3 separate regions of the Homo sapiens genome follow, and all the other regions are reported to be linked to region 1. Evidence: microRNA targets listed by miRTarBase, many of them from high-throughput screens and not tested one by one. Region 1 holds a microRNA gene; each other region holds the end of a gene's coding sequence.

What was found. Region 1 holds the annotated microRNA hsa-miR-6847-3p (GGCUCAUGUGUCUGUCCUCUUC, at 2,420-2,441, opposite strand). A microRNA usually pairs through its seed, bases 2 to 8, with sites in the 3' UTR of a target mRNA and lowers its output. Matches are read on the target gene's strand: a 7mer-m8 pairs with bases 2 to 8, a 7mer-A1 pairs with bases 2 to 7 and ends in A, and an 8mer does both.
Region 2: miRTarBase lists LRRC10 as a target of hsa-miR-6847-3p. Seed matches in the 3' UTR shown: 7mer-m8 at 2,382-2,388 and 7mer-m8 at 1,834-1,840.
Region 3: miRTarBase lists AVL9 as a target of hsa-miR-6847-3p. Seed matches in the 3' UTR shown: 7mer-m8 at 1,649-1,655.

The regions. Positions count from the first base shown.
Region 1 is chr8:144,079,025-144,082,358 of GRCh38, reverse strand. It overlaps MIR6847 (microRNA 6847), which reads right to left and starts at 2,485; the gene lies at 2,417-2,485. It overlaps EXOSC4 (exosome component 4), which reads right to left. Exons shown (of 3, transcript NM_019037.3): 2 at 2,210-2,416; 3 at 1,711-2,117. The coding sequence ends at 1,758. It overlaps LOC124902038 (a long non-coding RNA gene), which reads left to right. Exons shown (of 2, transcript XR_007061141.1): 1 at 1-238; 2 at 978-3,334.
Region 2 is chr12:69,607,268-69,610,267 of GRCh38, forward strand. It overlaps LRRC10 (leucine rich repeat containing 10), which reads right to left. Exons shown (of 1, transcript NM_201550.4): 1 at 1,297-3,000. The coding sequence ends at 2,738. Among named protein-coding and RNA genes, the nearest start is that of LRRC10, 2.1 kb to the right of the region's middle.
Region 3 is chr7:32,583,704-32,586,703 of GRCh38, reverse strand. It overlaps AVL9 (AVL9 cell migration associated), which reads right to left. Exons shown (of 16, transcript NM_015060.3): 16 at 1-2,912. The coding sequence ends at 2,797. It also overlaps the pseudogene DPY19L1P1. Among named protein-coding and RNA genes, the nearest start is that of AVL9, 90 kb to the right of the region's middle.

The DNA.
Region 1 (3,334 bases):
TCGGGGGCTGCGAGATAGCGCCGGCTGGAAGGCCCGCAGGAGTCAGAGGTGATGAGCCGGGCAGGTGGGTGGAAAGCCGGCGGCGGTCAGAGAATGGATGCCAAGCGAGACTGCCAATGACTCAGGACGTCCCAGTGGAGTCACAGCGTGAGCCCAGCACCGAGGTTTTCAGAGTCAGATGACTGCAGAGAAGATGCTGATGGCACTACTGGCCAAAACGGGCTTCACTGGAGCTGGGGTGTGTGCATTATAAAGTGGGGGATCATACTGTCACTGTCCGGGCCAGGAGATCCGTGGAATATTAGGGGAGAAGCAGTCCCAGGGTCCAGACTGCAGGGACTGGTAGTCGGGGCTCGGTGGGCCAGAGGTGAATGAAGGGGGAGTTTGCTCAAGAGGGTGCACTTTGGGAAGGTGAGGTGGGTGGATCCTTTGAGATCAGCCTGGACAACGAAATGAGACCCAGTCTGTACACACAAAAAAATTCCTTTTAAATTAGCCAGGTGAGTGGGGCATGCCTGTAGTCTCAGCTCAGGAGGCTAAAGTGGGAGGATCACTTGAGCCTGGGAGATCCAGACTGCAGTGAGCCGTGATCACACCACTGCACTCCAGCCTGAGCACAGAGCAAGACCATGTCTCAACAAACAAAATAGTGGTGGGCAGAGAGAAGGGTCAAAGCTGAAGACTCCATGTGAGAACAAGTTTTTTTTTGTTTTTTTTTTGAGACAGAGTCTTGCTCTGTCACCCAGGCTGGAGTGCAGTGGTGTAATCTTGGCTCACTGCAACCTTCAACTCCTGGTTCAAGTGATTCTCCTGCCCCAGCCTCCCTAGTAGCTGGGATTACAGGTGCCTGCCACCACACTAATTTTTGTGTCTTTAATAGAGATGGGGTTTTACCACATTGGCCAGGCTGGTCTCGAACTCCTGACCTCAAGTGATCCATGAGAACAGGTAATTTTTGTACTTTTATTTTTTTTTAGATGGAGTCTTGCTCTGTCGCCCAGGCTGGAGTGCAGTGGCACAATCTCGGCTCACTGCAACCTCCGCCTCCCAGGTTCAAGAGATTCTCCTGTCTCAGCCTCCTGAGTAGCTTGGATTACAGGCATGTGCCACCACTCCCAGCTAATTTTGTATTTTTAGTAGAGACGGGGTTTCGCCATGTTGGCCAGGCTGGTCTCAAACTCCTGACCTGAAGCAATCCGCCTGCCTCAGCCTCCCAAAGCTCTGGGATTACAGGCGTGAGCCACCATGCCTGGCTGTTGTACTTTCAGAGCCCAAGGTAAGCAGCAGGAAAAGCCCAGGGGGCTCCAAACCATAGTCCAGAGGTTGTGGGACATGGCCCCCACATCCCTAGGGTGGGTACCCAGAGCCAGCTGAGTTCTTCCTCAGCCCTTTGCTCAGGGCCCCCGATGTGCTGGAATAAGGGTAACAGATTCCTCAGTCTAATGGCCTGGCTCATCTTGCCAGGCCCTGCCTCCTGCTCAGCTGCCTTGAGTCCTTACTGGGACATGCTGCTTTTTCCACCCAGGGCCTCCCCTACAGAAACCCCCTAATCCACTGTTCTCTTCAGGGTTTGAATCAGGCTACACAGAGATAGGCCGTTCATGTGTGGGCGAGGGTCCCTAATCATCCCCAGGAGCCAGCACCAGACCAGGCTCTGCCAGCCTTCACATGGCTCTGAAGTGCTGTTAGGTGATAACGTACAGTGAGGGGTGTGTGGGCAGAGGAGGGTTTTATTCTGGACATGGGTGGCTGGGTGGTCAGTCCCCCAGCAAGATAGAGGCCTCACGCACATGCTGCCGGACCACTCGATCTAAGAGGGTGTGCACATCTCGGGCAGCCTGGGCAGCAGCCTCCAACACCCGCTCCAGGTGGTCCTCGTGCAGCCGGGCATCCATCTCAAGCAGCGCAATCTGTCCTGAGGCTGGCAGCAGGGCCAGGGCCAGCTGGGGGCCACCAGCTGCTTCCTCCACATGGCTGAGGTCCGCCAGGGCTGTGCCGTCCACGAAGCCAGCTGAGCACGCACACACAAAGTCTCTCATGGGTATCCCGGCATCCAGCACTGCCAGCGTGGCTGCATTCACACAAGCTGCATAGGTCCCACCATCTGCCTGTAGCACCTGCAGGGAACCCAGGGTGTCAGTCTATCAGACTCCCTCCCCAACCCCATCACACCCTTCCCTCCCTGGATTGACGGCTGCAGCTGGCTCACCTGCACATAGATATCAATCTGGGAGCGTGGGTGCAGCTGTGTGAGGATGGCTGCTTCGAAAGTCTGGCGGAGCTGCAGGCCCATCTCACAGGACTTACGGTCCCCATGTGGCCGTCGCTTGCGCTCACCTGTGCTGAAGGTCGCTGAACTATATTGACAGTTCACTAGGGCCCTGTCCGGCAGGGCTCGAGCCCGGGAGCCCCGGATCTGGAAGAGGACAGACACATGAGCCAGGCCCACTCCTTCCAGCTCACACTCCACTGTCCTCTGTGGGTCTGCCTCTCCCTCCACTTTCAATGCCTCAGCAAGGGGCAACTGCGTTACCTCCAAAACAAAGCCCCCTGTTTTGCGCTCTCTGTCTTGCATGTGTCGCCCTCTGGCACCTTTTAATTGGCTTCCTTGTGTCCATCCTTGCCCCATTCCCTGCCAACCCAAGTTTACAAACATCAACGCTGCTTCTGTCTCACCTACACACTCAAATCCTAACTACCTTACAAAGGTTTCACATTACATATGAAATAAGATCCCAAATCATTTCCCTACTCTACAAAACCCTAAGTCCTCACCTCCCCGGGAACCCTCAACCTGATTTGGAGTTATCCCCTCTTTCCCCACCAGCAGTCTTTCTGCTCTGCATAAGTGCCTTGCTTGTTTTCACCACCGTGGTCTTCGCCCTTCTGGTTCCCTCCGCCTGGAAAGCAGAGCTCCCACACTCATGCGCTAAGCAAACACTCTTTCAATACCTTCGCTGGCCAGGCAGTTACAGCGCTGGAAGCACAGTAATGAAACCAGATAGTTTTATGTAAAGTTCCTTTCTTTAGGAAGCTTATGTTCCAGCGAGGAAACAAAGGGGAAAATGCTTAAGCAAAATAGGCATTTGAGATTGTAGGTGCACAAAACAAAGGGTTTATTGTAGGGCGAGAAGTACCGCGTGGATAATAAGGTCGTCTGGGAAGGAGTGACGTCGGAGTAGAGCTGAAAGGAGAGGGAGCGAGTGGGGGAGTGCCTAGCACGTTGAAGAGCCGCAAAGAGGAAGGAGGGCGCAGGGACAGAGGCCGATGAGAAAGGCAGGACCACCGCGCAGCACACTAAGGACTTGCGTTTACTCCGAGTGAGATGCGGTGC
Region 2 (3,000 bases), not on the chromosome of region 1:
TTCCCTTTGATGCATTAACACTTTGAGTTTCAAGACTTAAAAATCAGGAGCAAAAAAGTTACATTTGGTGCTTCAACATTTTCTTATTTTACTTTCTAATTGTGTCAACATTTCCAGAAACTATTAGAAGGGTTATAGAAATGTAAGTATGCATTTATATACTTTATAAAATTGATTGAAGGCCGGTTGCGGTGGCTCACACCTGTAATCCCAGCACTTTGGGAGGCCGAGGTGGGCAGATCACGAGGTCAGGACGAGACCATCCTGGCTAACACAGTGAAACCCTGTCTCTACTAAAAATACAAAAAATTAGCTGGGCGTGGTGGCGGGCGCCTGTAGTCCCAGCTACTTGGGAGGCTGAGGGAGGCTGAGGCAGGAGAATGGCGTGAACCCGGGAGGCGGAGCTTGCAGTGAGCCGAGATAGCGCCACTGCACTCCGGCCTGGGCGACACGGCAAGATTCTGTCTCAAAAAAAAAAAAAAAAAATTGATTGAAAATCTACAGTGAAAACATTTTTGGAAAGCAAATTCAACAGCGAACACTTGACCATACCATTTGAGAAATGTTCTTTGTGTATTGACTGTTTTAGAAGAAAACAGCTTGATTATGGGCCAAAATGTTTATAATTTGACTACTGATTCAGACCAGTTAGCTCTTTAGATGACAGTTCTGTATGGATCAATTGGCTTCACTCTGTTTTATGGTTATAGTCTGCAACTACAGAATGGCCGATTAATCTTGGGAAGGGTAAGACAGGGTCAAAAGAAAGTCAGAAATCTATAAACCTTGCTATAGATTAAGCTTAGAATGCAAGTTCTGTTGACAAAAGTTTCTAGCATCAGCTGAGTATAATTTGGCTTCCGTCATTAGGAATGAGATAAATCCTAACTGTCCAACAGAAATATGGACTTGTTTCTAAAGGAGTTAAATATGTTTGACCTGAAAGTTTAAACCTATTACATTAAATGATTAAAGGGACCTTTTTTGGCAGTCTGATCAATGGGTTGCAAATGCTCTGCAGATGGGAGGTGACGATAGGAAGGAATTATGCAACATCATCCTTCCTCTAGTTTAGCAGGAAATATTTCTGGTAGGAAGACATACATGAAAATAGGTCTGCTGTGTAATGTCATTTTAGAACCAAACTTTGTTGGGTTAAGATGCTTTTACAGAAAACATCCTTTTAAAAACTTGGTACTGTATGTTTTAGTTAAGATAACACTTTTTGTGTCCTTGTTTGCTGAAAACGTTCAAGTACATAAAGAATTGTATTATTAAATTACCCACTGACAACAATTTCTTTAAAGTTTATATATTTGTGGGAAGGTCACAATTTACATACTTCCAAAAAACAAAATACCTTGGTTTATACATTGTCAAAACAGTCTGTAAAAATCAAAACAAATTGAAACAAAGGCAGAGATACTAGGCGAAAGAGGCAGAGACTTCCTATATACACTACAACTTCCTATTCAAATTTCAAAGTGCTTGTTTCAAGAGAACACATTTCTCACCTACTACCTTTAAACTAACATGCTTCTGGAAATGTGGTTTTCCTCCAAGGACAGGGATTCAATTTAGCTCAGCTCTGGCTCATTAGTGTGAATAAACAGAAGGGCTTTGCTTCAGGGAGGTAGACAGGAATCACAACAAGGCTTGACTTTAATGAGACCACATTACCACAGAGGTTCTCTTTTCCAGATGACTTCCAACATTGTCAGTGACAGTCAACTGTTGGGAGCAGATCTTGGGACAAACCTTTTAGGGAAAATGAACTAAATCAGCATGAGCCACTGTCAAGTTTAAGGTGACAGCTGAAGGCTGGGTGTGGTGGCTCATGCCTGTAACCCCAGCACTTTGGGAGGCTGAAGCAGGAGCATCGCTTGAGCCCAGGAGTTTGAAACTAGCTTGGGCAACATAGCAAGACCTCATCTCTACGAAAAAATTAAAGACTTAGCCAGGTGTGCACATCTGTAGTACCAGTTACTGGGCAGGCTGAGGCGGGAGGAAGGCTTGAGCCCAGTAGTTCGGGGCTGCAGTGAGCCATGATTGTGCCACTGCACTCCAGCCTAGCAACAGAGTGAGACCTTGTCTCTAATAATAATAAAAGGGGCAGCTGGAGTCCACCAAGAAGTATTGTCCATCAGGGATCTTTTCAGCAGGCACTAAACTGCTGGGGAAAGAGTTTCATCTTGAGCCTTTACAACAACAAACAACTTTTTTCTGTGAATCTGACTGATTGCCTAGGTAGAAATGTCCTTTTCGGTGGCCTCAGTGATACATTGATACTGTTTATGGTCATTTACAGTAAAGAAAATATGTCCTGCAAAGAGACAGACCACCAGAATATTTAGTTCTATGGCAAATACCTTATTTGAGGAGCTCATGAGCTTCATGACCAGTCACTTCTGGAGAGTGCAGGAGTTCAGAGTGTCCCAGCCCCTTTTGCTCTTCAGTGTTTCAAAATACATGTGTGGAGAAGCTGTTTTCTTGCAAAGAAGTTATGATCTCTGGATTGTCATGCCATCATTGGCACACAACTCCCCTCTGGAAGAGGAGCTGTTTGCCAGAAATATTTTCTCAGTGTGATTTATGGCATTCCACCTGGCTCTCTCCATCAGTCTCTACTAGCAGAGCCACTCCCAAATGACCCAGAGCCATCCTTTCCACTCCAATGGAGAGGCTTCCAGAACATGCTGCAGTTGGGTCCTTGGCATTGACTTGCAACTGAAGCTCCTCAGGAGTTGGTAGGAGGAAGTAGAGGGACTGGTGCCTGTAGCTCCTGGCTTTCCTCTCTGACCAACGCATAGCGCCTGGCTTTTCTAGGGTCGGGCTCTGGCGTCTCCTCTGCCCATCTCCCCACACGGCGCACACCTTTGGCCACCTTGGGTGCGTTCCTGCAAGGATTGTGGTCATAGATGACCAGCTTCAGACTTGACAGGTGCGCCAGGCTGGGGAAGTAACGGATGCTGTTCCAGTCCACATCAATCACCTCCAGGA
Region 3 (3,000 bases), not on the chromosome of region 1:
AGGCTGGCTGACCCTGGTTCCCTCACACCTAGGTACAAATACTCAATTCTTAGACACAAAAGCCTTAGCAAGTGTGGCCACCAACACACACACACCTTCACCAGGGCTATGTCAGAAGATGACCTAGTGCTGGTTCCTATGGCTCACAGAGCCAGGGTTTGGAGAGAGGCTGCTGCTTCTATGCTGGCCACTTGGAGCCTAGAATCCAAGCCTGAAGTATGTGTGTGTGTGGGGGGGGGGGGTCACAGGACCAGGGGTGAGGCTTCCTGCCTTTGATTGTGCGAGCTGCCTTGGGGCCCCTGCCAACAATACAACAGCCAGTGTTCCTTGAAAAACTCCACCTCCCAGAACCTGAAGGAAATATAGCTATGGTCTTTTGACCATTTCTATGATGAAAGTTGTATCTTCTGAGATACTTGTTTTATGTTGGAAAGTCAGTAAAGTGACCACTAAGAGTCAAACTCTTAGCTAGAAATGTTAATAGAAAGTCCGATCAAAGTGTATATTCAATGAGGAACAAGTGATATTAAAGCAAAGTTAAACTTCATGTAACTATTTTTATTTCAGTGGATTCCAAAGCATGAGTTGGGCTGCTTTTGAATAGTGGGAGACGGGAGTTTACCCCGATCACAGAAACCATACCAACTGAAAGACAAATCAGCATCTTGCTGGACGACCCCTCACAGAGCTCCTAGATCCTTGAAGTGTGAACTTCAGCAGCTGAGAGGTAACAATTGTACACAAATCACACTATCATGCTCCAACGAATGATGTGGCCCTTATGAAACAAGATGTTAGAATGAATTCTTTATAGTCTCAGCGCAAAAAAGATTCAAGTACTGTTTAAGGTTTTTGTTTGGTACTACTTTCTTCTCTTCAAACAGCATTTCCTGAGGTTAACTTTCTTGGAAGAAGTGGAATTAATGGAGTTCTCACATTCAGCCCTTCAATTTATCATCGCTGAATTCTTGAGTTATGCTCAAATGAGTAATACAATTTGTGTTTAGAAAACACAAAGTGGAAAATTTAGAGACATTTAGATTATGTTTCTATGTTCATTTCAAATGCCTTGGGAGCATTTACTTCTTAAACATTTAGTGAGGAATAAACCAAATATAATCAGGGCCCTCCTTTATTTCCCCAGCAATCTGGGATAGATCATACTCACAATGTATTTCCCAAGTATCCCTTGTTACTAAAAGGCAGTCTGTTCCCCGTAAGTACTCTCTGAGAACAGCCATCCCAGGTATCCTTGAAAAGCAAATGAGAGCTGAGCATGGCAAACACACGAGGTCCAGCTGTGTACAAATCATCAGTAGATGGCACACACATGCATGTATGTGCCTAACATGAAACCAGATATCCTTTCTCAGATGACAGATGTCAAGGCTGCAGTTTTCTTCTCTTGCCTCTTACTTTGCTGAATATAAACTAAGATGAGATTTCTATTTAATACTTACAATCACCTTGCTTTTCTTTTAAGATACTTCTAGAAGGGGGTAGGGATTGATTATAGGAGGACTTTCAGTTAGGGAAGTAGAAGACTAAGTGCTTTGAAAAGCTTTATGAATAAGACTACGAGAAAAGCTGTAGGTCTGCAAACACCCAATAGAAAACTGTTTAAAAAAGAAACAGGCCAGGCGCAGTGGCTCATGCCTGTAGTCCCAGCACTTTGAGAGGCTGAGGCGGGCAGATCACTTGAGGCCAGGAGATCAAGACCAGCCTGGCCAACATGGCAAAACCCCGTCTCTACTAAAAATACAATAATTAGCTGGGCATGGTGGCGCATGTCCATAATCCCAGCTACTTGGGAGGCTGAGGTACAAGAATTGCTTGAACCCGGGAGATGGAGGTTGCAGTGAGCCGAGATGGCACCACTGCACTCCAGCCTGGGCGATAGAGTGAGACCCCGCCCCCCCCCCCCCCCCAAAAAAAAAAAGAGAAACAGATGGCACAAACTCTGGAATAAAAAAAAAGTGCTTGTAAGACTGCAACATGACTGCGGTTGAAAAATAAACACATAGGTCTTCTTTGAAAGTATTGCCCTACAGACACATTCATGTTAAACTGCTTCAGTATCATCGAACCATCACTCTGCTATTTCTCTGCACACCCACCTGCACAGTTATAAAGAGGAGGAAAGCACAGTGATACTCCTTGATGTCTGAAACCAAGTTTTTAAGGATGTGGAAAGAACAAACTAAAAACGTAAAACAAAACACCCAATCCTCAGAACTACCACCTCTAACTTTCATGTTTCTGGGAGGAAGTGAATTAATAAATGTTTTGTGGGTAGAAAGCAAAAAAATCATCACATAATTCAGCAAAATAATGAAGGCCCAACTGTATGACCCCTTCACTTTATAAGCACGTTTTAAGGCCAACTTTAGAGAAAATGGTAATATAAATTAATTTTAGCAAGTATAAATTACAGTGACCATCTAGATATTCAAACACCAAAACAGAACAAAATTTACATAAGTAAAAACTCTTCTAAAGTAAACCAATGTACAATATCAGAACTCAAAATTCATTAGAAGGTTCACTGTATGTTTTAATCAGGCTCAGACTGAAATAAAAGTAGTCAATTGAAACCCCAACCTGGAAAGCCATCCCTGCTATGGCTGTGATTTCATCATTTCGGCATCCCGAAACATTCACTTAGAGCAACATCCATGTAAACAGTTCGACATATGGTCCCCTGCTGTGGATCTGTGGCTAGTAACAGCCTGGGAGCAGCAGACAGACAGGGGACACTTAAACCTCAGAAAGCAATAGCAGCCTCTGACGCCTTGCTCAAGGCTTCTCATCTGGTGGCTCAGTGAGACTTTGGGAGGTGGAAGTGGTGAAAGTGGAAAGCCATGAAGACATAGCTGTCTTTGCACTGGAAAAAGCTCCTCCAACTGACTGGCCTGGATGGAGAGGAGAAAAACAAAAGGAAAAATGTCTTAACTTTTGTTACGAGACAGTGAAAGACCAACATAATTAATACATTTTTAA